Regions from separate parts of the Homo sapiens genome. Here region 1 is linked to region 2. The links come from fine-mapping of genetic effects on gene expression. A gene starts in region 2. The other region holds a variant in brackets. All regions are shown on one strand. Distances are between the middles of the regions. Region 1 has its middle 33 kb from the start of PIP5K1B. Region 2 holds the start of PIP5K1B (phosphatidylinositol-4-phosphate 5-kinase type 1 beta).

Evidence for each region. PIP is the estimated chance that this variant, and not a neighbour inherited with it, causes the effect. A credible set is the group of variants that fine-mapping cannot tell apart.
Region 1: its variant is the best candidate, but not a certain one, in a credible set for the expression of PIP5K1B in whole blood (INTERVAL, PIP 0.81).

The regions. Positions count from the first base shown.
Region 1 is chr9:68,666,748-68,678,614 of GRCh38, forward strand. No RefSeq gene overlaps it. Among named protein-coding and RNA genes, the nearest start is that of PIP5K1B, 33 kb to the right of the region's middle. RefSeq lists an enhancer at 2,334-2,886. The variant C/A (reference allele first, on the strand shown) is at 7,108.
Region 2 is chr9:68,698,966-68,710,832 of GRCh38, forward strand. It overlaps PIP5K1B (phosphatidylinositol-4-phosphate 5-kinase type 1 beta), which reads left to right and starts at 6,275. Exons shown (of 16, transcript NM_003558.4): 1 at 6,275-6,797. RefSeq lists enhancers at 5,789-6,714, 7,403-7,492, 7,943-8,092 and a silencer at 6,133-6,652.

The DNA of each region.
Region 1 (11,867 bases), 32 kb before region 2:
CTAGAGATGATCTAATGTATACGGGAGGATGCACGTACGTTAGAGGCAAACACTATGCCATTTTATATAAGGGACTTGAGCATCCATGGATTTTGGTATCCACAGGGATCCTGGAACCAATCCCCCGTGGATACCAAGGGATGACTATATTTCTAAAAAGTGTTATACTCACAGGTCACAATTTTTGGAGAGACATAATTTAATCCTAAATAGAAGCCAAGATTCCAGATCCTAATTGTTTCTACTCTGCTTCCACATCCCGCAGTGTGACAATCAGGAAAGCCACCATCAAAAAGTCCTGATGCTCATGGTTGGGTGTTGTTGTTTTTGTAAATTGCATTTTATCATTAAGGTCCCCATGTTGGTGGTGGTTTATTGCTTAATGAAATTGCCTCCTCTGTGGGCTTTAATTATAAGGCAGGGAAATGAACAACAGAGAATACAATCTGAGGTGGCAGCCAGGCCATTTTCATTTAAACTTTTTGCAGGTTCCCACTGTGTGCTTTATTCTCATAAACTACAGAATTAAACACATGAGTCCACTGGGCTGGGCCTTACCACTCACTGCTGTCAGAATGAACATCTAGAGTAAATAATGATAGCTCCATCAGACCCACAGATGGGGCTATGTTAAGCTATGTGGCTGGTGCAGTCTCAGCAAGGATGCCTGCCACAGGCTGCCTGGAAGAGGACTCTCTTAAATATCTGCTTGAAGAATTCGGCCTGAGAGTACAAGCAAGTTGTCCACTGCGAAAACTGAACAACAGGCTACTATAGCTGGAAGGATGTTAGTAAGCCTATTCCAAAGGCTCTTAACCTGGATGTGTGGATTAGCTTTTAGGAAGCCACAGCAAACAGTGTTCATGTCCCCCCACCCCCACTCCTCCATCTCCTCGGCCCACCCAGAGGTTACCTTCAGCTTCAGTGAGTAATTCCATAAACCAGCCAGCCTTCCTGGTTGCTGAGGGCTTTGTGTGGCTGCAGGAGCACACCTGCCCAAGGTCAGAGCAGGCTGGGATGGCCTGAGAGTTAACACTATGACCTCCAGCCAATAAAAGATGTGAGTTGGTGAATAAGCACCTAGCTTCTTCACCCCTCGGTGGGACGATTCTGAGGTATGTTCTGCACGTTGTTTTGGAGGGTCCCCAGAGCCAGCGGGCCTCTGTTGTCCACAGTGGTACCCGCTGATGAGCATACCTTTCACCGGCTTTCCTCCCTTTCCTGTCTCAGGCCTCATCATGTTCCCTGGGATTGCCTCCCAGATGAATGACTTGTTCCCAAATCCTTTACCTCAGGGTCTTCTTTTTGAGGGAACCCAAATCAAATCAGGGTATACAAGCCCCTGAAGCTACATGGGAAAGTATTCATGTCTGTGCCATTTTCTGAAAGAGGGCACACAGCTTTCATTAGATCCTCAAAAGCTCTTAGCCAAAACCAAAAAAAAGGGGGTAAGAACCACTGCTCATTATTCCACAGTGAGAGCAGCTATTTCTTCCAGGTCTAATCTAATCACTCTCAACCTGGGGGGCCAAAGGAATGGAGTCAACTTTCAACTAGCTGACAAGTCTGCATGACAAGAGGTGGGGGGAAGAGGTATGCAGAGAGAACAGCCCTGTGTGTGGGAGTACAGAACAGCAAGGGCCTTTCCCAAGGCCAGCATGGTCTCAGGCTAATCTGATGTTTGTGCGTGCATTGTATTTTATATCAAAGGGGAAGGGCCAGTTCCCAAAAGACAAATATGTGATTCCACTTATATGAAGTGCCTAGAGTAGACAAATTCATAGTGACAGAAAGTAGAATGGTGTTTGTCAGGGACTTGGAGGAGAAAGGATGGGAAGTTGTTGTATACCAGGTGCGGGTTTTAGTTTTCCAAGATGAAAAGAGTTCTGGACCGGACGCGGTGGCTCACATTTGTAATCCCAGCACTTTGGGAGGCCAAGGCGGGAAGATCACTTGAACCTAGGAGTTTGAGACCAGCCTGGGCAATATAGAGAGACCCCATCTCTACAGATAGTAGTAATGATTTTAAAAATTAACCAGGGATGGTGGCAGGTGACTGTGGTCCCAGCTGCTTGGGAGGCTGAGTTGGGAGAATCTCTTGAGCCCAGGAGGCTGAGCCTGCAGTGAGCCATGATCACACCACTGCACTCCAGCCTGGGAGACAGAGGAAGACCCTGTCTCAAAAAAAAAAAAAAAAAAAGCAAATAAAAAGAAAAGAGTTTTGGAGATGGATGGTGGAGATGGATGGTGGTGACAGTTGTACAGGAAAGTGAATGTACTTAAAACCAACGAACTACATACTTCAAAATGGTTAAGATGGTAAATTTAAGTTATGTGTATTTTACCACAGTTGTTAAAAAAAAAATGTTTAAAAACCACTGATCTCAATAAACACAACAACAACAACAAAAGCTGTTGTAGCAGGAACTGTGACCCTCCTCATTGGTGCTATCTTTTTGCAGGGTCTGGTGCTCACTGTGTGTAATCGTGACTGCGGGGACCCGCCTATCGGAGTAAATATGTAAAAGGAGGTGAAGAGGTGGGCCTGATCCCTGGCCCGAGGAGTGAATTCAGGCAAAGCCCTTGATGTCTTTGTGCCTAAGTGTCTCTCCAGTTGAGGAAAACAGTCGCTGTTGTTAAGCCTCCTGGGTAGATGCCAAAAGAATGGCCACTCATGAGGAAGAGGGCTGCATTAGGCTGAGAAAGCCGCAGGAAGTGACTGAGAGGGAAGAGAGAAAGGTCAGTGTGTTTGTTGTGTGAAGAGTTGGAGGTCAGTTCTAAGAGACAGAAAAGCAATAAAATCTGGAGATGGAAAATAGCTAGGAAGGAAGTAAGAAATGAAAAGACCCGTGGCGCATACCACTGGCAAAGATGCTTCCTGGCAACAGGTTTCTCAGACTTTGTCCATGAACTCCTGCGGGCCTTCGGACAGACTCTTGGGGATCCTCAATTCTCAACAAAAATTTTCTAATGTTATTTTTTTCTGATTAGGATAATCAAAAAGTGATTTAAGTATGTTCTGCATATGACATTTATGTATGTATAATTGTTAAGCAATTTCCACAAATTAGAGATTTTGACTTTTACTGACTTTTAGTGTCTGAGCACTATTATTATGGATAGCTATGTTCCAATGTCAAATTGTCAGGAAGAAGGCTGTGCCCACCTCTCTCCTCATATCAAAATCCTGTCTGGTGATGATTTGCCATCACAAAACCTATTTCTATAGTAATATTTTAGTCTCTCATGTTATTCAATAACTTGAGACTTTTAGATTTGCCATCATTTACACTAACATACTGTGGTCAAGCAGTAACATACGGCTGCGACTGTTCTAGTGGATGTGAAGTGTAAATGAGGTGCTACAGCCAATGAATGGCCAAAGGACATGGGACTCCTCTGGATGAGCAAAGCTTTCACAGGAGTTTAAATATCCTAGGTAAAGTCAAAGTGACTGCGATAGAAAGAAAACTTGACTGAAGATCAAATTATTCATAAAATTCTATTTCTGATATGTACAGGATTCTGTCAATATTCTTATCAACTCTTTAATAAAACTAGAAATTTGTTTTTGACATCTGCAAGGAAAAAAAGAACCCAGATATGCTGATGCCACCAATAACTAAATTAGACAAACACATTTAGTACACATTTGGTAATTCAGTAAAGCTAAGAAATTTTAAGAGAATGTAACTTTTCAGAGTCTATAAAGCAGTGTAACATTAGAATTGCTTTTTTGTTTTGTTTTCTTTTTTCTTTTTTTCTTTGTTTATTTTAAAATTGCTTTTTAACTTAGGTTAACTATAAGGTATAATAACCCTGAATTAGCAAACAAAAGCTTATTGTTATTAATACTGTTTTGTACAAAATATTTTGCAAATAGGCATTATTCACACTGATATTGTTGAAATAAAAAAACAAGAGCAGGGTAAATGTAGATATGGACTTGTTTTCTTTTTAGTACTAAAGCCTACATCGACAATTTAGTTTTAGCCAAGCAATAATTTCTGTAAAAATAATTTAATATTGTAAATATGAAATTGATTGCTTTTCTTGTTTTGGTTTGCATTTATACTCCTTGCCCTTTTTTCTAGTATGTAAGAGCTACGAGCACAATGAGAATACACCTAGGCTTACTTGTACTTAAATAACATTACAATATAAGTGCTTAAGAGAACCCTAGGAGGCCTATGAGAATTTGTTTTCTCAGAAGTGCTTTGCACATCACTCAAGCTAGACAAATACTGTTTTAGAAACACAGAGGAAGGCAACATCAATGTAGCCTGGGTTGTCAGTGTCAAAAGACCATTCTTCATGGGATTCTTGTTTCCATATATCTTGTGAGCGGAGGCATGGACTATCTTTGTTCTTGGCTAACTTTTCAAGGATTTTTGTATAGTAAACACATTGAGAGAGAGAGGTAATGTCTTTCTAGGAAGCATCAAGCATTGGAGTTTAGAGATAGTAAAAGGGAAGCGTGTTTACCATCCATTATAAAACATGAGGCTGTCCTAAGTTCTCTCTATTCCTCTCCTTATAGTGCAGCTTACTGTGTGTGCTGGTGTCACTTGACCCTCTCCACATTACCCCAGGGGCATCAGGACTTGAAGAACTGGCCCAAAAATGCTGCTACTCTGGCTACTACCATTGCTGTGAGTTAAAAACTGTCCTTTGTCTCTGACCCAGGAGTTCTATGCCTTCTACCAGCATCCATGAAACTTGGCTGGCTAAATTGTTAGCTTTCCAGTAGCTATTATGAAATCTCAGGCCCTTTGTGATTATTTTTTTGTTTGTTGGTTTGGGTTTTGTACATATTTATGGGGTACATGTGACATTGTGTCACATGCGTAGAATGTGTACTTCTACTTCAGGATGTTTAGGAGATCCATCACCATAAACTTTACCATTTCTATGTGTTGAGAACATTTCAAGTTCTCACTTCTAGCTACAATACATTGTTGTTAACTGTAGTCACCTTACTCTACAATTGAATATTACTGCTTATTCCTTCTGTATAACTGTATGTTTGTACCCATTAATCAATCTGTCTTCATCTACACATCTAAATCCTTCCCAGTCTCTTGTCACCACCATTTGATTTTCCACCTCCATGAGATCCATATTTTAAGCTCCCACATATAAGTGAGTACATGCAATATTTATTTCTGTGTCTGGCTTATTTAACTTGATATAATGACCTACAGTTCCATCTATGTTGCTGTAAATGACATGATTTCATTCTTTTTTTGGACAAATAGTATTCCATTGCATAAATAAACCACATTTTCTTTATTCATTCATCCACTGATGGATACAAGTTGATTCCATATCTTTGCTATTGTGAATAAACATGGGAGTGCATGTATCCCTTTGGTACACTGATTTCTTTTCCTTTGCATAAATACTCAGTAGTGGGATTGCTGAATCATACGGTAGTTCTATTTTCAGGGTTTTTTTTTTTTTTTTTTTTTGAGAAATCTCTATATGGTTCTCTGTAATGGTTGTACTAATTTACATTCCTATCAACAATGTATGAGAGTTCTTTTTTCCACACACCCTCACCAGCATCTGTTATTTTGGCCCATGGAGGAAGTGGGGTTTGAGGTGTGACCTGGGTATAATTTGGCTAGATGGATGTGCAGTAGTGCGGGAAGAGCAATCCAGCTAGGTGAATGTCACCAAGACTCAGAGACAGGAATGCACTGTGGTCTGTGGTAGAGTGATGAGTAGGTCAGACAGACTAGAATAGAGAGTTTGGGCTGAGAAGTCCCAGTTAGAAATTAGGCCCTAAATTAGAAAATTAATTTGGGGCTAAATTGTCCTGTGCTTAAATATTAGGGTAAATGAAATCCTATATATAATAAAAAACTTTTGAAGGTTTCTAGCTCTCCTTCCCTGAAGTCATTGATTTATTTGCTTATTTATTTATTTACTTAAGTTCCTAAGCAGGGAGATGATATATTGAATATTGAAGTCTGATGTCATAGAAGAGTGAAGTATGGAGTGATAAGAGAACATCAACAAGTTTCTTATCTTGACTCTGCCACTTACTAGCTGTGTGACCTTGGACAAGTTATTTTCTCTGAGGCCAGTGTCCTTATCTGTCATAGGAGGAATAATAGAGTCCTCAGCTTAGTGAGGTGTTGCAAAGGTTATAGATAATATCTCTAAAATGCTTGGTGTATTGCCTAGTACACAGGAAGCCAATAAATGGAGAAGATTTTTCAGCTAGCTATGTGCAGCACAGATTGATGGAGAAGAAGTGAGGGCATGAGTCTCCCCTCTTGTAAAGTAATCACAACTACATGGGGATAAGGTCATGAGGAGTTGGGCTAAGATAGTCAAGGTAGTAAGAAAAACAACCCTAAATATATAAAAAAAAAACTACTAGAACTTGGAAACTAATTGAGCATTATGATAGCTAATGTTTACTGCGTGCCTAGTATGTGCCACAAGCTATTTTAAACACTTCAAAATATTAGCTCAGTTCTAAAAATGCTCTGAGGAGGTACTATTATTGTTGCCATCTCAGAGTCTATCATCTCAAACAGACACTCAACGAGATAGAATAACTTGCCTGAAGTCATATAACTAAGGCCAACAGGAACTCAAACCCAGGCAGCACAGTACCAAAGCCCATGTGCTAATCTACCAGACTATATTGTCTTGCCCCTCAGGAGGAGGTTAGGGAGCAATCGGTGAGGATTCACAGGTCTGGAGACCAAGGAGGGCAGGAGGAGCAGAAGTGTGCTAAGAGAAAATGATGCTGTGTGTCCTGACATGTTGAGTCTGAGCTTCGGGAACATCGAAGTGGATGTGGCCTATAGGGAGTTTGAAGTTGGGGCCTGGAGCTTGCCCGTGTGAGAGGATCTGTTTGAAGACAAAGATGTGAGAGTCACCTACTGCATAGGAGATAGTTGAGTAGTTTATCAGCATCACCCTTTTGAGTGGTCAAAGGTGTGGTGACTCTGGTCAGAGACTGCCTGGCATAGCTGACTAGGAATTGGAGAAGCGATCAGTCTGGCACTTTCCAGACTGGGGTTTCAGCAAGTGTTGTTATTGTTGTTATACCAGGGCATTCTGTCTTTGCAGAAAGACACTCAGGCA[C/A]CTGCTGCCACCAACAATTATTTCCCAAGATCTGGAAGGCAAAGACATGGGCTTTTCCTTTTAACCTTATCACTGCCCTGTCTGCCATGCTTGACTCTTCTTCATTTCTCTGTGACAGACATCATGATATAATAGAAAAAGTTCCAGAGTTGGAGTTATGCCTGAGTTGAAATCACAGCTCTGTAACTCACCAGCTCAGTCATTTTGTGTAAGTTAATTAAGTCATTTAATCTTAAATGTATTTTTTAAGCTGTCAAATGGGAATAATACTTTTTTCAGAAGGTTGTAGTGAAATAACTACTAAAACCTTTAGTAAATGTTGGTTACTTGCCCCCAACAATTCCATCTTCTTTCCCCTGGGGTGGTTTAAGCATGGCCACAAATTATTTGATCTTTCCTCATTAAGAGTTGGGGGTTATGTTCCCTCCCCTTGAATCTAAGCAGGCTCATGACTACTTCAACCAGCAGAGTAGGGTGGAAGTGTCTTTTTGTGACTTCTGGAGTTAGATCATAAAAAGGTGATGTAGCTTTTGCCTGTTTGTTGAACTGCTTGTTCCTGGAGCCCTGAACCTTCATGTAAGAAGTCTGACCATCCTGAAGCCAGACGCCACAGCTGAGCCCAGCCTTACGACCGTACCCACCAAGGCACCGGGCATATAGTACAGCTGAACTGGACCTTTAAAACCAGCCTGTCTGCCAGCTGAATACCACCAAGTCATCTCCATTGACACTACATGGGACTGAAGGATCACCCAATCAAACCCTGTCCACCAAATGTCTAACCCCAAAAATCATGAGATACAATAAAATGGTTGTTACATTTCCGAGTAGTTGATAACTCAGCAATAGTGAACTAGAACAATCACTTTTATTCCAATCCCTTTAATTCTTCCTCCTCCACCTGCCTGCTTACTGGAAATAGCCAGTCCTGAGTGTATTCTGATTTGAATCCTGTTCTAATATTTCATTGTGCAAAATGTGATTTGAGGGTAATTTCATTTTATCTCCTTGAGCCTCCTTCCTTCCTTCTTTTTTTTCTCCCTTTCCTCCATAAGAATTTTCAGAGTGTTTTCATTGTATCAGATGCTAGATTGGGCATGGTCACTTTCCTCTATGTCAGGGATTAGCAAAATTGTTTAAAAGACCAGAAAGTACATAATTTAGGTGTGCAGACAAGTACCCAAATGTGCCGCTGAAGCATGAAAGCAGCTATAGATGTAAACAAATAGGTGTGGCTATATACTAATAGATGTTCATTCATCCAAATGAGTTTTGTATTCATTTACAAAAATCGGGAGTAGGTTAGATTGGGCACCCAGGCCATAGCTTGCTGACTCCTGCTCTAAGTGCCCAACACCTGGTTGGGAACATATGTATGTGTTCAGATGTCTTCCCAGGCCATATCTGGTACGTGGCAATGCTATTCAGTAGCTAGAGAAAGAGCCTCCAGCCACCCCAATTCAAAAAGGACCTGGAATTTAAGTCAAGTCTTGGCTGACAGAGGAATGGATGTTCATACTTGGAGATGGAGGTGCAGAGGCATGTAGTCCCAGAGCGCAAACAGGGATGTCAAAGCAGCGCAGGGAGCTGGAGATGAGGATGGGCTGAGCAGAAAAGTGAGAGATCAGGCAGAAATGCTAGAGAGCCTTATTTTCTAAAATTGACAGAATGCTTCTTCTGCTCACTCATTTTTCTCTCCAAGGAGTTGAAGGACAAATCTGATAAGGTAAAAATGGCTGTGAGCTCTGCAGATGCCTGCCAGGTATTACTGAAGCTATCATCTTTCCTTTTCAGAAAAATAGCTCCTTAAAGTAGATGTCTTCGGAACACAATGTAAAACCTCTTCCCCTCCCTCTAGCATAGCAGGAATTCACAGGAGGGAACCAGAATAGCATGTCATGTTCTAACAGCTCTTCCAGCAGTGAGACTAAATACACATAAACTCTTCTAAATTTGTATCTGCTGCAAACATGAACAATGACATCTTGTCATTCTGCTACGAGGTTCATCTGGACAAATTATATGCAGCGAAGGACACACTCCATCACTTTCCTGACTTTTTCAACTTCAACATCAGACCTTCATGTCCCGAAAATATCTCTGGCTTCCCTTTTATTCTTCTTTAATTGATAGCACTGTCATGAAGTCAGTGAATCCAGATTGAGAGAGAAATAGAAAATTTAGAGGAGATAAAATGCAAGTTTTTCTGATTATCTCGGCTTTGACTCTTCAAATCAGCACAGTTTATCTCAGTTAAAGGGGTTTATTTGAAGGCTATCCATGGCAAAAAAGAAGGAAAAACATCTTTTCAGAAGCTGCAAAGCCAGAGAATCTCACGAAGAACTAATGAAGTGGAGGGTAGAGCAGTGGCTTTAAACCTGCAGCCAAAGTTCTGGAATCTCAAAAGCAAGTGAGCTATGGTCCTGACTCGGTTCCTCCATCCACCTGCTTCCTCTCCTGACCCTTCTCCCTGCTTCTTTTGATGGGTCAGTTTGTCTTATTGTTTTCTTACTGTCTTCTTCCTTCATGTCTTTTGGTTTCTACTCCCACTGCCAACTCTTCACTCTCTCTTTCTAGCTCTCTCATTCAAACTTCATATGAGAAAGGATATGAGCACAATAGTCAATCCTATCAGAGTAGAACATACTGGTGGGAGGAATGGTGCAGGACTGGCTAACCTATAGGCCATAGCGTAGGAGCAGCACTCATCCTCGGTTCCATCAGCTGAGGCTGGGGGTGCAGGTCAGGAGACACAAAGCCTGATGGCTTACACGGCTTTCCTCATGGACTCTTCTTCACACCACAGCCCAATATACCCATGCCCCACTGTCAAGCCATGGGCACCAACAGCCAATGCTCTGGGACCTACCTCTCTTGCCCCCCTTCTGATCCTGAGCCCACCAGTTACCTGACTGAATCCTCTCTTTATTTATTTTTTATTTATTTTTTGAGACAAAGTTTCACTCCCGTAGCCCAGGCTGGAGTGTAGCGGCATGATCTTGGCTCACTACAACCTCTGCCTCCTGAGTTCAAGCGATTCTCTTGCCTCAGCCTCCCAAGTAGCTGAGACTACAGGTGCACACCACCACGCCCAGCTGATTTTTGTATTTTTAGTAGAGATGGAGTTTCAACATGTTGGCCAGGCTGGCCTCGAACTCCTGACCTCAAGTGATCCACCCACCTCAGCCTCCCAAAGTTCTGGGATTACAGGTGTGAGCCACCACACCCATACAGAATTCCTTCTTTATCATGATTCTATTTCTGAACACTTGTATATTTGAAGAGACAAAGCTGAGACAGCCAGAAAAACCTGCATTGTATCTCAGCTAAATTTTCTATTTCTTTCTCAGTCTGGATCGCTGTCTTCATGACAGTGCTATCAATTAAAGGAGAATAAGAGGGAATCTTTATCATGATTCTATTCCTAACTACTTGTATATCTGTCTCTCCAGCTTCTGACTCTTCAATACCCTCCAAAGGCTTTGACTCAGGTGTACTCTGCCAACTCTCTCCGTTGCACATTGCCTCTGAAGTAAACCCTGACCCAGTGAATCCAATGGGAGAGAAGAGCACAGGCTGAGCTGTTGTCAAAGAAAGGCCCCCAAAGTACAGAGACTTAAGTAAACATGAGCTTGTATCTCTCTCAAGTAATAGTGCAGAGGGAAGTATATCGTGAACATGGCTTCTGTCTCTGGGTCCAACGTGGCTGCTCCCAGCTAATGCCTTTTGTCAGCCAAAAGAAAGAGGGGAAATAAAAAAGGGGAGCACACACTCTTGCAAAAGGGAAAACCCAGCAATTGCTCGTGTTACTTCTGCTCTCATCTGACAAAAATGTCCTGGTGGCCGGGTGCAGTGGCTCATGCCTGTAATTCCAGCATTTTGGGAGGTTGAGACAGGAGGATGCCTTGAAGCCAGGAGTTCAAGACAAGCCTGGGCAACAAAGTGAGACCCCCATCTCTACAAAAAAAAAAAAAAAAAAAAAATTGCCAGGTCTGGTGGTGCACACCTGTAACCCTAGCTTCTCAAAAGGCTGAAGTAGGAGGATCACTTGTGCCCAGGAGGTTGAGGCTGCAGTGAGCTGAGATTGTGCCACTGCACTCTAGCCTGGGAAACAGAGCAAAACCCTGTCTCAAATTTGTCCTGGTCACATGCCCCACCTAGCCTCTAAAAAGGCTGAGAAATGTAGACAGACATGGGCAGACATGCCTTTCTAAAACTTGGAGTGGGGTGGGTGGTTAGATCATTCAATTAACGAAAGAGAATAGATCCTATGGAACGATTAGGGGGCTCTGCCACAGGACAACTTATGGCTGAAGTCCATGGGCTGATCCAGATTTGATGGGACTAAAGTTTCTGCAACTCCTGGGGTCCTCTTTAAGATACAGAATGCAAACTGAAAACCACAAAATTACAAATACAAGGCCTTTGAAGGGGCTCATGCTAGCGAGGGGCCAGGAAACTTAAGCTTTATTAGCTTCGTGATAATAGCACCTCTGCTTGGATTTGCTAATCAATGTCCGAATCACGTTCTTCTCACTCCCACAAAAGGTAGTTTAGACCATTTTATAGGGTGGATTTTGTAAACTTTCAAGGTCAGTGCCAAATGTGGCAGCAACATTTTGCTAAATGATAGTAAAACAAAACAAAACAAGTCTTAAATTTCCTCTTCCTGATGTTTTCACTGTAGTTCTTAACCATGCAATGCTGTTTGCTGGTGGGCTGTCCCCAGCAAGGGCTGCAAAATGCTGCCTCTAATGGTG
Region 2 (11,867 bases):
GTCAAATGTTTCATAATTGATGAGGATTTTTTAAAAATGTTTTGAGTAGGTAGAAAACAAACTACTTTGCATGTTATAACAAAGAAGGGTTGAGCATGAAAAATCTATGCTCAATCATGAAGACCCCTGGGCATATTCTGCTGATCACTTCCTGCTCTGGGGATAAAATGGCAGCCTAGGGTTTGACTCCTGGTTCCAGAGATAATTTCTGTGACCTTAGGAAAGTTGTTTCGATACTCATGGTATAATGATTGCAATAATTATTTTGGTGTGTGTTGAGGAACACTGCTGACTCACTTCTGCCTCTTTCCTCTACCTCAAGCTTTAAAACTGGCCTCTCCAACCAAAAAGCGGGGCAGGGTGGGGGTGGGTGGCGCGACGGTTCTCTCTCCCTTATCAAGGCCATGACTTTCAACTTCCTTAAAACCCAGGTTCAGACTTGATATAGAAAATGTGTGTATAAATTTTGCATGCTTTAAGAATCTTTCTGAAATGCAGCTTGATTCTCTATGCTATCCCGGCAATTCTCTATTTTTTGTCCTTTCTCTCCTCCATTCTGATATTCTCTTGCTTCTTGTTCACTCCTCGAATCAATCATTATTTGGTTCATGTTGTTTTTGTAACTTGTGGGCAAAGTGAAAACTCACCTTAAAAAAAGTATGTATGTGGGTCAGTTTGTAACGAGAAAAAATGTTAAAGAGAAAAGGAGTAACTGAATTCAAAAGAAAATAGATTATACAGGCTGGTGGAAATTAGACTGGTATTCTTAATGGTGTATATATATTTTTAATGTTAGAAACAATATAACATCAATTTTTTTAAACCTTAGAATTCTCCCACCCTGGTATACTATGCAGCCATAAAAAAGGATGAGTTCATGTCCTTTGTAGGACATGAAACCATCCTTTGTAGGAATGAAACCATCATTCTCAGCAAACTATCTCAAGGACAGAAAACCAAACACCACATGTTCTCACTCACAGGTAGGAACTGAACAATGAGAACACTTGGACACAGGAAGGGGAACATCACACATGGGGGCCTGTCGTGGGGTGGGGGGAGGGGGGAAGGATAGCATTAGGAGATATACCTAATGTAAATGACGAGTTAATGGGTGCAGCACACCAACATGGCACATATATACATATGTAACAAACCTGCATGTTGTGCACATATACCCTAGAACTTAAAGTATAAACAAAAAACAAAAACTTCACATGTGCTCTCTAGATCAAGCTTATCTGTTACCTTCATACAGCTATTGAGTCGGTTACTGAGGATGAAAAATAAATAATATTGACAAAAATATTACAAAAAAAAAGAATTCTCCCACCCTAACATGAGAACTTTAAACATTGTTCTTTTCCAGGTATTTATCGTTCATGTGCATTATTTTTTACATAATTATAATCTCCATATATATAATTTTATGTTTTTGCTATGAAATTTTAGGCGCACATTGCTTAGCTCTTCTTCCTGCTTCCTAGATGGGTCACCAGGTATTTTGGAGAACTTTTCCAGGGTCAGACCTGTATGCCTGCTAACACTGGGCCTCCAGTTTTCTTATTGTTCTTAGCTGAATGTAAACATCAATGAGTTTTGAGAAGAGCTAGATAATACCAACCTCTGGGCAAAGAACAGTAAGTTAAATAGGACATGTGTCTGGTAGATTTGCATATATTCTAGCTTTTAAAAACTCAAGAAAAAAGTACTGAGAGGTATTGTAAATCACTCATGAAGGCTTAAGATACAAGTGCACCTCTTCTAAAGGGTTCTGAGTCTTTAATATGCAAACTCCTCCAAGCCTTGGCACTAAATGTATTGCAGAAGGAACATTCCTTTGGCATGTTAGGCATGTAAGGGACTTTTCAGAGCATCTTGTCTAACTCTCTCATGGTGCAGACAAGGAATCTGCCACCAAGAAAGAATGCAGATTTCACTGTTGTGGGGACAGAGCTGGAGTGACAAACCAGGTCTTACGGCTCCTAATTCAATGCTCTTTCCAATCCTGAGAGGAAAGAGGAACAAGGGGATGGATAGGATTAAGAAAGAAAGAAAGAAAAAAGGCAGCAAAAAAGAAAGCAAAGCTGGATGAAAGAGAAGAGGGTACAGGGAATTAAGAAGAAAAGGAAGGCGATGCATATGAGGTTGTCAAGCCTTTGCTTGAATGTAAGGTTCCCAGGGTAAACTGGTCCTCTGAAATTAGTGTCTCAAGTTATACAGGGGCATCAGCTAAGCGTTTAGCCTTTCTTGTCTGCTTAGACATGAAGTTTCTAGAAAGAGAGGGCAATGTGGCAGGAGGATGGTCCCTAGAGATTTGGGAAGGATGCTGGCTCTACTTCTCTACTCTTCAATGTCAACGAATGCAATGCATGCCTTTCATCTGGATTCCTGTTTTTTTCTCATTGGAAAAAAAATAAAGGACAGATGAACAGGTGGAACTATCCATAGCTCACCAATGTTCCTCAAGTTCCCTCTGAATATTTATTGGACTTCAGTTGCTCTTGAGACATCACCAAAAAAAAAAAAAAATGCTAAATGTGCATTAGCAACTTAGAGAAATGCAACCTCCGGCATTTCATAGAAAGGTCCAGAAAGAATGTGTAACTGGTTCAAAGTGGCGTAGCTAAGAAGAATATATCGATGATCTGATGTGGTGTCACAAAGCACCCAAACACGTAGTGGATGAAGTAGTCTTCAAAAAATGGCTGCTATCAGCTCTTTTATTCCTGAACATAACACAGTACCCCTCAAGTCAGAAGGCAGAGTCTATTTCCCCTCCTCTTGAATCTGACTGGCCTTGTGACTTGCTTTGACCAATAGACTGAAGCAGAAATAACATTCTAGAACTTCCAAACTCAACCCTTAAGAGAATTGGCAGTTTCTATTCCTCCCTCTTGGAAGCAAGATGCCATAGAAGAAGTCTAACCACCTTGCTGGGAGGAAGCCCAAGCCAGCTGGATGGACAGAGAGAGGTCATGTGGAGGAGAACTGAGGTGCCTGATATGTGAATGAGGCCTTCTTGAACCTTCCAATTCAGTCCGGCTGCCAGTGGCCAGTTGAATGCCGTCAAATGAGTGACCTAGGCCAGGCACAGTGGCTCATACCTGTAATACCAGCACTTTAGGGGTTGAGGTTGGAAGGTTGCTTGAGCTAGGAGTTTGAGACCATCCTGGGCAACACAGTGAGACCTTATCTCCACACAAAAAAATAAAAACAATTAGCTAGGCGTTGGGGTGCATGCCTGTGGTCCCAGCTACTTGGGAGGCGGAGGTGGGAGGATTGCTTGAGTCCAGGAGATCAAGGCTGCAGTAAACTGTAATCATGCCATTGCACTCCAGCCTGTTCCAGCCTGTGTGACACAGCAAGACCCTGTCTCAAAAGCAAGCAAACAAACAACAACAACAACAAAAACAAACAAAAAAACCATGAGTGACCTTAGGCAATACTCAGCTAGGCTTAGTTGACCCACTGAATCATGAAAAATAGTAAATGACTGATGATTTTGGCAACTAAGTTTTGGGATTGTTTGTTAAGCAGCAATCAATATCTGAAACAGTGGCTTTAAACAGCAACCATTTATTGTTTCTCATGAATCTATGAGTTGGGAGGGTGGTTCTGGTGATCTGGACCAAGCCTAGCCAATCTCATTCAGACTTGCTTGTGCCTCCACAGTCAAGTGAGGGCTGACTGGTCAAGGATGCCTCAGCTGTTATGACTCAGCTCTGCTCTACAGGGTCTTTCATCTTCCAGCAGGCTTATTCTGGTGATGTCAGAATTCCAAGACTGGAAACAGAAATGTGTAAACATTTTTCCAGCGTTCATTTACATCAAGCCGGCTACTGTCTTGTTGGTCAAAGTAAATCATACGGTTGGGCCCAGAATAGGAGTGGACTACAAGGTTAGAGGGAAAGACCTTGGAGAAAAAAGGAGGTCATTTATTGGGGGGCCACTAATACTATCAAATGTACTACTAGGAACCCATGCATGTTTCTCATAGTTAGAGGAGTATTCAATAGCATTATTAAAGTTTTGGACTGAGGTCAGGAATCAATTGAAAAAATTACATTTAAAATTAAGCAAAATAATTAGATGAATATTTTCTGATTTTTAAATAGGTTTCCAGAATTTCTGGCCAAGTCACTATTGCTCATGATATTGATGTTGTTGTATTATTTCCAATACAGGATGACTTTCCTAAATCCCTGTTGATAGAGTTGGAGATAGAATCAGGAAGAAATACCAGGTCTCATACTACATGGTCATTCATTCCATTAATCAATTCACAGTAATAATGCAATCGTAAGGCTCTTGGTAGAGTTCCTTAGAATCCTGCTTCATAAAGTTAGCTCTCTAAATAGCCAGTGGGCAGTCTGGTTGGACACTTCTCTCTGAAAACCTAAGGCTGTTTGCTTTTGGGCTTTACAGAAGTGGCTCAATACCAGGCTCATTAATGGGAAAAGGGTCATGTGTATGGATACATGTATTTGGACATTTATACGTAATGCGTGATCACTTTTGATCCAATGTTTGGCTTTACCTGTCTTCATCTCCCCTGCATTACCAGAAACTGACTTTGCACTTTCACTTACCACCGCCTCCCTGGGAGGCAAATTCATTTTCCACTCTGGATTTCATAGCTGAAGTCTGAGAAGCAGGAAAAGGAGAGACTGGGATTACCATTCCCAGATTCCAAACTAGCCTGCTAGTTACAGCGGTATGATGCTGCCCCCTATACAGTGATTCGTACCAGTCAGATGAACGGTTCTTTGATCGGTTCTTCTGTCCTCCACCACTGGTCTATCCACCCCATCTTGAACTTTGTTAATACAATATTTCTGCTAGTTATTGTTCAGGGATTGAGAGTCAGGGAAACTGTGTTCTGGTCCTTGGGTTACTTAATGTCTTGAGACCTTAGTTTCCTCATCTGTAAAGCGGGAGGGCTGGACTAGATGTATGTTCCTCCTGCTCTGAGCTGTGAAGCGTCTAGGATGCCAGGAGAAAACCAGACCCAAGTCACAGGGTTCTAAACAAACCATACCTTAAATCTCTCAGTAATGGCCAGCCACATCTGCAAGAAGCAGGCTGGGAAAACAGCTGAAGAATAACAGATATTTGTTTTATTTGTCAATTATGGCTCAGTAAAGCTAAAAAAAAATAGATACTTCTGTTATCAAGAAATTATTGCACTTGATTCAAGGCTGATATTAAACCATAGCAGACTCACTCAAGGTGGGGGGTGAGAGAAACAAAGAGATTACAAAACTGAAAAGAGGTGTTCATTTGCAGAGAACTAAGGGAGTATCCTTCAAACAGAAACTGGAAGCCAGAGATCTCTGAAGATAAGGATCATGAAATGTTGTTATTCCCCAGACAGAATGTATCCCACGTTTTCCACCGGCGTTGTTTTTGGTAAAGAAGGGTAAGTGGAAGGAAGTGATGAGGCTGAAAAATACCATTTGCTTCAATTCAGCCGCGAAGGATCCGCTACCTTTTGGTTCCTATTAAGTGAATTTAGCTTTAGCTTTCATGATAGCATTTTCCCAAAGGAGTCCTTTAGATCTGACCCCTACCCTCTTCGCAGCTAGACTGACATCAGGTGACGTTGCAAGTGCCCCCAGCCCACTAAGCGCTATCAGTAGGAATTGGCCCTCAGCCCCGTCACAGCGCTTTCCCATGACATCCCCCAGCTTCTCTCTCCTAGGACCTCCTCGCCAGCCTACCCCTACCTGTTGGGTAGGTCTTACTTGCTGGGAACACCTGCTGTCCTTAGAATGGGAGCAACCAACGCCTTGGAATCCTGGCCTGTCCCTTCCTCGTGAAGGGGGCGCCTGCGCTCAAGTGCCGGCTTCGCCGCCTCAGGCAGAGTCTAGCAGGCGGGCGACCAGGCGTAGCTGAGTTCTGTGGCCTGGGGAAAGGGGACGCCCTATCCCCACAGCCCTGTTTCGCAGGGCTTCAAGACGCTGAGAACGGCCGGGAACCCCTGGAGTCTTGGAGGCACCCGCCAATTCCAGGGGCCCACCCCAACCCCGCTCTCAGTCTGGGCCAGCGGCGGCGGGACAGGCGCCCGGTCCCCACACACCGGCTGAGACGCCCAGCCCACTGCGGCTGAAGCTCCGGCCGCTGTTGCGGCAGGTGCTGCAAACCGGTCTGCCTTCGCTGCAGGGCTTGCGGGGATGGGGCAAGTGGGTGGAGAGAAAAGGGGAAGAGCCTGGGCGGCCGGCAGGCGGGGCCTGCAGCCTCCCCAGCCGCGGCAGCCGCCGCGCAGCCGGCTCTCTCTGCGCCTCGCTCCGACTCCGGCGCGCACCAAGCGGGAACCCGCGCCCGAGCCCGGCGGGCGCCGCTGCTGCTCCTCTCGGTCCCCGGTTCCCGGTCCCCGAACGCGCCGCGGCGAGGCTGCGCCCGGCAGTGGAGCCGCTCGGAGCTGCTGGGCTTTGGCGGCCGCTCGCTGCTCCGTCTGGCCGGAGGACCGGCGGGGAAGGAAGGGGAAAGCGGGGACACACACACTCGCCGCGGCGCGCGCGCACTGCACACTCGTAGCCGCGCGCCCCCGCCAAGGCGCGTCCGGAGCGAGTTTGGCCCCGCGGCTCCAGCCCCGGCACCTGCCCGCCCTCAGCGTTGCCCCCGGCCCCGGCCCCGCCCGCCGCCCCCTCCGCCCTCCCGCCCCTCCCGCCCCTCCCGCCCCTCGCCTGCACTGCTCTCCCTTCGCTGTGGGGAAGCGACAACGTCCCGATAACTTGCAGACTGTGGCGCAACTGGTCTTGGTAGCGGAGGCACCCGAATGCTGCCCGGGTGAGGTAAGTTTCCTGTGCGTCCCCGGCCCCTTCCCACTAGACCCTTCTGAGGGGCTTGCGCTTAGGGGCTCTGCATCTCTGCTGAAACCCGTCGGTCTCTCTACCCTTCCACTTTGCCTGTCTGCGTTGTGCTGGGGGTGACGTGGAGAGGGCGCCCGTGGCCACCGAAGCGGACCTTCGTTCCGCGGGGGCCACAGCTGCGCGCTCCCAACGGACACCCACCCGCTCGTCACCCGGATCCCCGGGGCCGCAGTGACACTCGGAGATCACTCTGGGTTCACTTAAATAGGAGTACTCTCCCCTTTTCCGGGGAACCTGCAGAGTTTGGCAGCGGAAGGAAAGGTCTCCCACCACCCTCCCCCGGTACGAAACAGCGGTGAACTTGTTAGGCGCCCTGGTATCTCAAGAGGGGCTTGCGAGTTGGTGTTCTGCTCATTTCTGGCGCTGGTGCCGGATTGAACAGGTGCGGTATGGTTCCAGTCTAAATGCAGCAACAGACTTCTGCGTTTCCCAGGCTTTCTCCCCCAGCCTGGTCAACGTGACGCTTCAACATCTGGGGCAGGGGCTGGGAGTGTAGGGGCACTGGGGAGGGAGAATGCCCGGGTTTGATTTACTATGCCGGTGCCAGGAGTCGCCAGAACAGAAGAAAACAAATGTCTGCTTATCTGGCATCTATGCAGATGAGCGTGTTGTCATTTCTTATCCCCCCCAACCCCCAGCTCTCTTGTCTGGTGCCCAGCGTGGCTGAGTAGAAACCTATTCCGGAGAAGTTATTTGGGTAGATTGATTAATTCTTTCATCGAATCTACTGAAATCAGGGCTCCGAACAAGGCAATCCTAGTTACTCTGATGCTTTTTTAAAGGGAGCGTGTTACAGATCAGAAATAACACCCACTATCATCACTACCTCTCTGTGACATTCTCAGATGCAGGAGGCCCTAGCTTTAAGGGGAATGATCCTTAAGGGACCGGTAGGACCTCAGAATGTGTTAATCTCGTGCAAGGAAGAAGCGGTCTCTGTGTCAGTACTTCTGAGTCTCGGTTTGGGGAACCCCTTTTGTCCCTCTAATGAAGCACATTCAGCCAGAGACTTCTCCCCTGTTCTGCGAAGAGACTGAAGCGTTCTGCAGCTGTTGGAGTGGAGAAAGGCGAAAGGATTGGTTTCATTAGGACTCTAATGTGATGAAGTAAGGATGGGTTTCATTAGGACTCTAATGTGATGAAGTAGGGTAGTGTTCATGGAAGCTTTGCTAGAGCATTCCCAGCTGAAAGGAGACGCTGGGAAAAAACCTTAATCGGCCAAGTGTAAACCAGTGGGAGGTTGAGTGAGTTTCATGTGTGATCTCTGAGCGGAGGGAAACGGTGGTTCTGATATGGTCCTGTGGGCAGAGACTTATGAGGACTGATGAGAAAGCTGGTGAGTTTGAGACTGATGTATGATGACATCTTACCTGAGAAGGAAAACTGTGAAGCACTAAATGATAGAACCACATTACATTTTTGTCCACGTTAAGACTAGAGAGATTTAATAATAACACCTTACATTTGCATCAGTGTCTTGCAATTTGTAAATTCTTTTGAGTGTTCTCACCTAATTCCAAACATTTCTGAGGGAGGCAGGGCAAAGACTTTTTACCATGTAAACACAGAAGGAACATGAGGCTCACAGATTCAGAGATTTATCAAGGTAACAAGTGCTGGTATTAGAATCACAGTTAGGTTTTCTGTCATAACCAGGTGCCTGCTCTGTACTTATATAAGGTGGTTTTTTAAATGGCAGAGTTCTTCTGCATTTATTGTGGTCTGCATAGTCTCACTGTAAATTACTGTTTACATTTTACAGATGAGGAAACTGAGGTTTAGACAAGCAGTGGGAGTTTTCCATGGATTTACATCTCATTTAGTGGCATTTGCAAGACTAGAACTTGGATCTTCTGATGTCCAGTCCATTGCTTTGTGTATTCTGCCATCATTTCAGTTCTGATAGCAATGAGGACACATCATGGAAACTGCAATACACAAAGGACTGTTAAGCATGCCCCCAGTGACCTGGGTTCTAGTTCTGGGACTACATTTGGCCGTATGACCTGGGCCATCATATCACTTCCAAGTCTCAAGTGTCTCACATATAAAACAAAACGTTTGTATGAAATTATGTTTTTTCTTTCCAACTTTAGCATTTTGTGATGTTTACCAATGTGTTTGTAATCCAATGTTATCATTTTCTCTAGAGGAAGGAGACCTTTGTACCCCACATCACCTAAGAGACCTAGCTAATTACTCTTTCACCTTTAGTTTATCCCTTCCCCCCTTTACTACATGCCACTTCATCAAAGGAATGAAACTTAACAAGTGCGTTTTAGCTTAACATCTACAGTATATTGTTTAGTTTACTGTTTGACTTGAAAATATTCTGAGGGGTTAAAGTACTGTAAGGTACATGTCAGGGCTTACTTGAATATTCTAATTGTAAGCTCATAACTTTTTTTTTTTAGCTTTATGGTTTGCATAAAGTAAGTGCTCAGTAAATAGCTGTTGAATTAATGAAGGGGGTGAATGAAGTCATTCATAAGGAAAACATATGCTGTAAAACATAGAAAGCATCTTACCATGTAAATTCCCAACACATAAGATAATTTGCCTACAGGCATGTGCCTCCTGAAGCTGGCGGGTACAGAGCCCATTGTTGCTCTCTTTTCTGAAGGCATCATATAGGGAAGAGCTTTTCTTTCTCCCTAGACAGTAGACTCATGTCATCTATGTTATGCTCTTTTGTTTGCCGCCCCCCCGCCCCTTTAGTTGTTAGTATTACAGCTGCTGAAAGATACATTCCTAGAAATTGACTTGTCCCATTTTATGAAAGGGTATGTCTTGACATGGGGAAACCAACCATTCTGTTTTTAAAACAGGGTATTGAATAAATTTCAGGAGATGCTAATACTGTCTCGTGGTTTCAGAGGGGGAACCTAGTTAACAAAACCAACCTAGTTTCTGTTCCTTTTAACAATCTTCTCTTTCTACTCCTCCTCTTTATATACAGACAAGTAGTGTTTTTATGTTTGGAAGAATGATAAGAAAGAATATAGTGATCTTAAATATTATTAATGGATCTGCAATTTACATTGGGGATTGATGTATGTTTCCTTCTGATAAAGAATTTAAATATTAATTAGTTTAGAAGTACCGTTTATGGGTAAGAAAACTAAAACTTAGGTGAATTGACTTACTTATGGTCACAAAGATGATAGCAGGAGGACCAAGATCAATGTGGAATTCTTAAGAAGGTTCATATTTGAGTTTGTCCCAGGAGTTCTATGGTGAAGGTACAGTTTTGACTTTTAGAAATCATAGAGATTAACAGAAAACTTCTGTTTACTATCATTATTAGAGAGTTAGTACATTTGAAAATGGTTTAGCATTTATATGTTTAAGTTTTCTTGCCCAAGCAGATGCCATTAAAAATAACATGTTTTTTTCTCTTTACTTTTTTTTTGTTTTTTGAGTCAAGGTCTCATTCTGTTTCCCAGGCTGGAGTGCAGTGGCCCAACTCCAGCCTCAACCTCCCCAGGCTCAGGTAATCCTCCCACCTCAACTTCCTGAGTAGCTGCAACAACAGGCACGCACTACCATGCCTGGCTAATTTTTGTATTTTTGGCAGAGACAGGGTTGCACCATGTTGCCTAGGCTGGTCTGTAACTCGTGGATTCAAGCAATCCACAGGCATCGGCTTCCCACAGTGCTGGGATTACAGGTGTGAGACCCTGTGCTCGGCCAAAATGTTTGTTTTTATCTATTCACTATGATTCTTCTGGCTTATGTGCATCACCAGACTCAGAAATAATACTTTGCTCCAATCAGTGCTGGGAGAGAGGAAACTGTTCAAATAGAAACCAAAGACCTGTAATCCCATGGGAGGCCGAGGTGGGCGAATCACTTGAGCCCAGGAGTTTGAGACCAGCCTGGGCAACATAGCAAGACCCCATCTATGCAAAAATAAAAAATTAGCTGGGTATGGTGGCACGTGCCTGTGGTCCCAGCTACTTGGGAGGCTGAAGTGAGAGGATCACTGGAGCCTAGGAGTTCAAGGTTGCAGTGAGCTATGATCGCACCACTGTACTCTAGCCTGGGTGACACAGCAAGGCCTTGTCTCAGAAAAGAAAGGAAAAGAAACACAAATGTATGCTGGTATTCTCAACTTCTCTTCCTGATATATAAAGCCAGAAGCCAAAGGTAGCCTTGTCATGCAGCTGGTAAAGTCATAAATATGTATACATTCAATTTGCATTTGCATTTTGCTTGTACTTCTGTTAGATGGTGAGTCAGAACATTTAATATCCTGGAAATTTTTTTTTCCCCCTATGGCCAGAGCCTTCAGTAGATTCTGTAAAACATCAAGTCCTAAATGTATTTGTTGCTGAAACATGTTCTCTTTGTATCAAGTGCATTAATGGGAGTTGGAAGGAATCCTTCATTTTTTTTTAGAAGCTGGCCAGTTAGAACTGTACATTATGTAGCTCTACTGTTCATTTGTGGTCTTATCAATAGAGCAGGATGTGTTACTTTTTGCTGAGTGCCAGAGAACTGGGGTGGGAGGAAACCTAGGCTTCTGTTTTATTTTTTTTCTTTTTAAAAATCAACTTTAAACTTAATTTATGATGAAATTTTTGGGGTACTGTGTCGTAAACAATCAGCTGCTATTGACAGAGAATTGTATTCAGTCAGGTTCCTTTTCATATATAAGATTAGGTCAGGGAAAACAGGCTTGCTTTTGTACATTCTATTCTCAATTGTATTTACTTCTGTATCGCTTCATCAGAGGTATATAAAGGAGATAATCACACAGGAAAACACAGGAATCCTGCCCAAACTAGATTACTCTTGGAAAGATTTGAAACAGAGTGATTGGGACAAGGTTGCATGTTCAGTAAGCTGACAGTGCCTTGGTATTATCATTTTAAGTTAAAACAAACTAGCACTGGAATAAACAACATGAAGTGTGTGTTCTTGTAGGAAGTCTTCTGTATTGTTTATGGGACTCAATAAACAATGAATATGTAACATGTTTGGGTAATT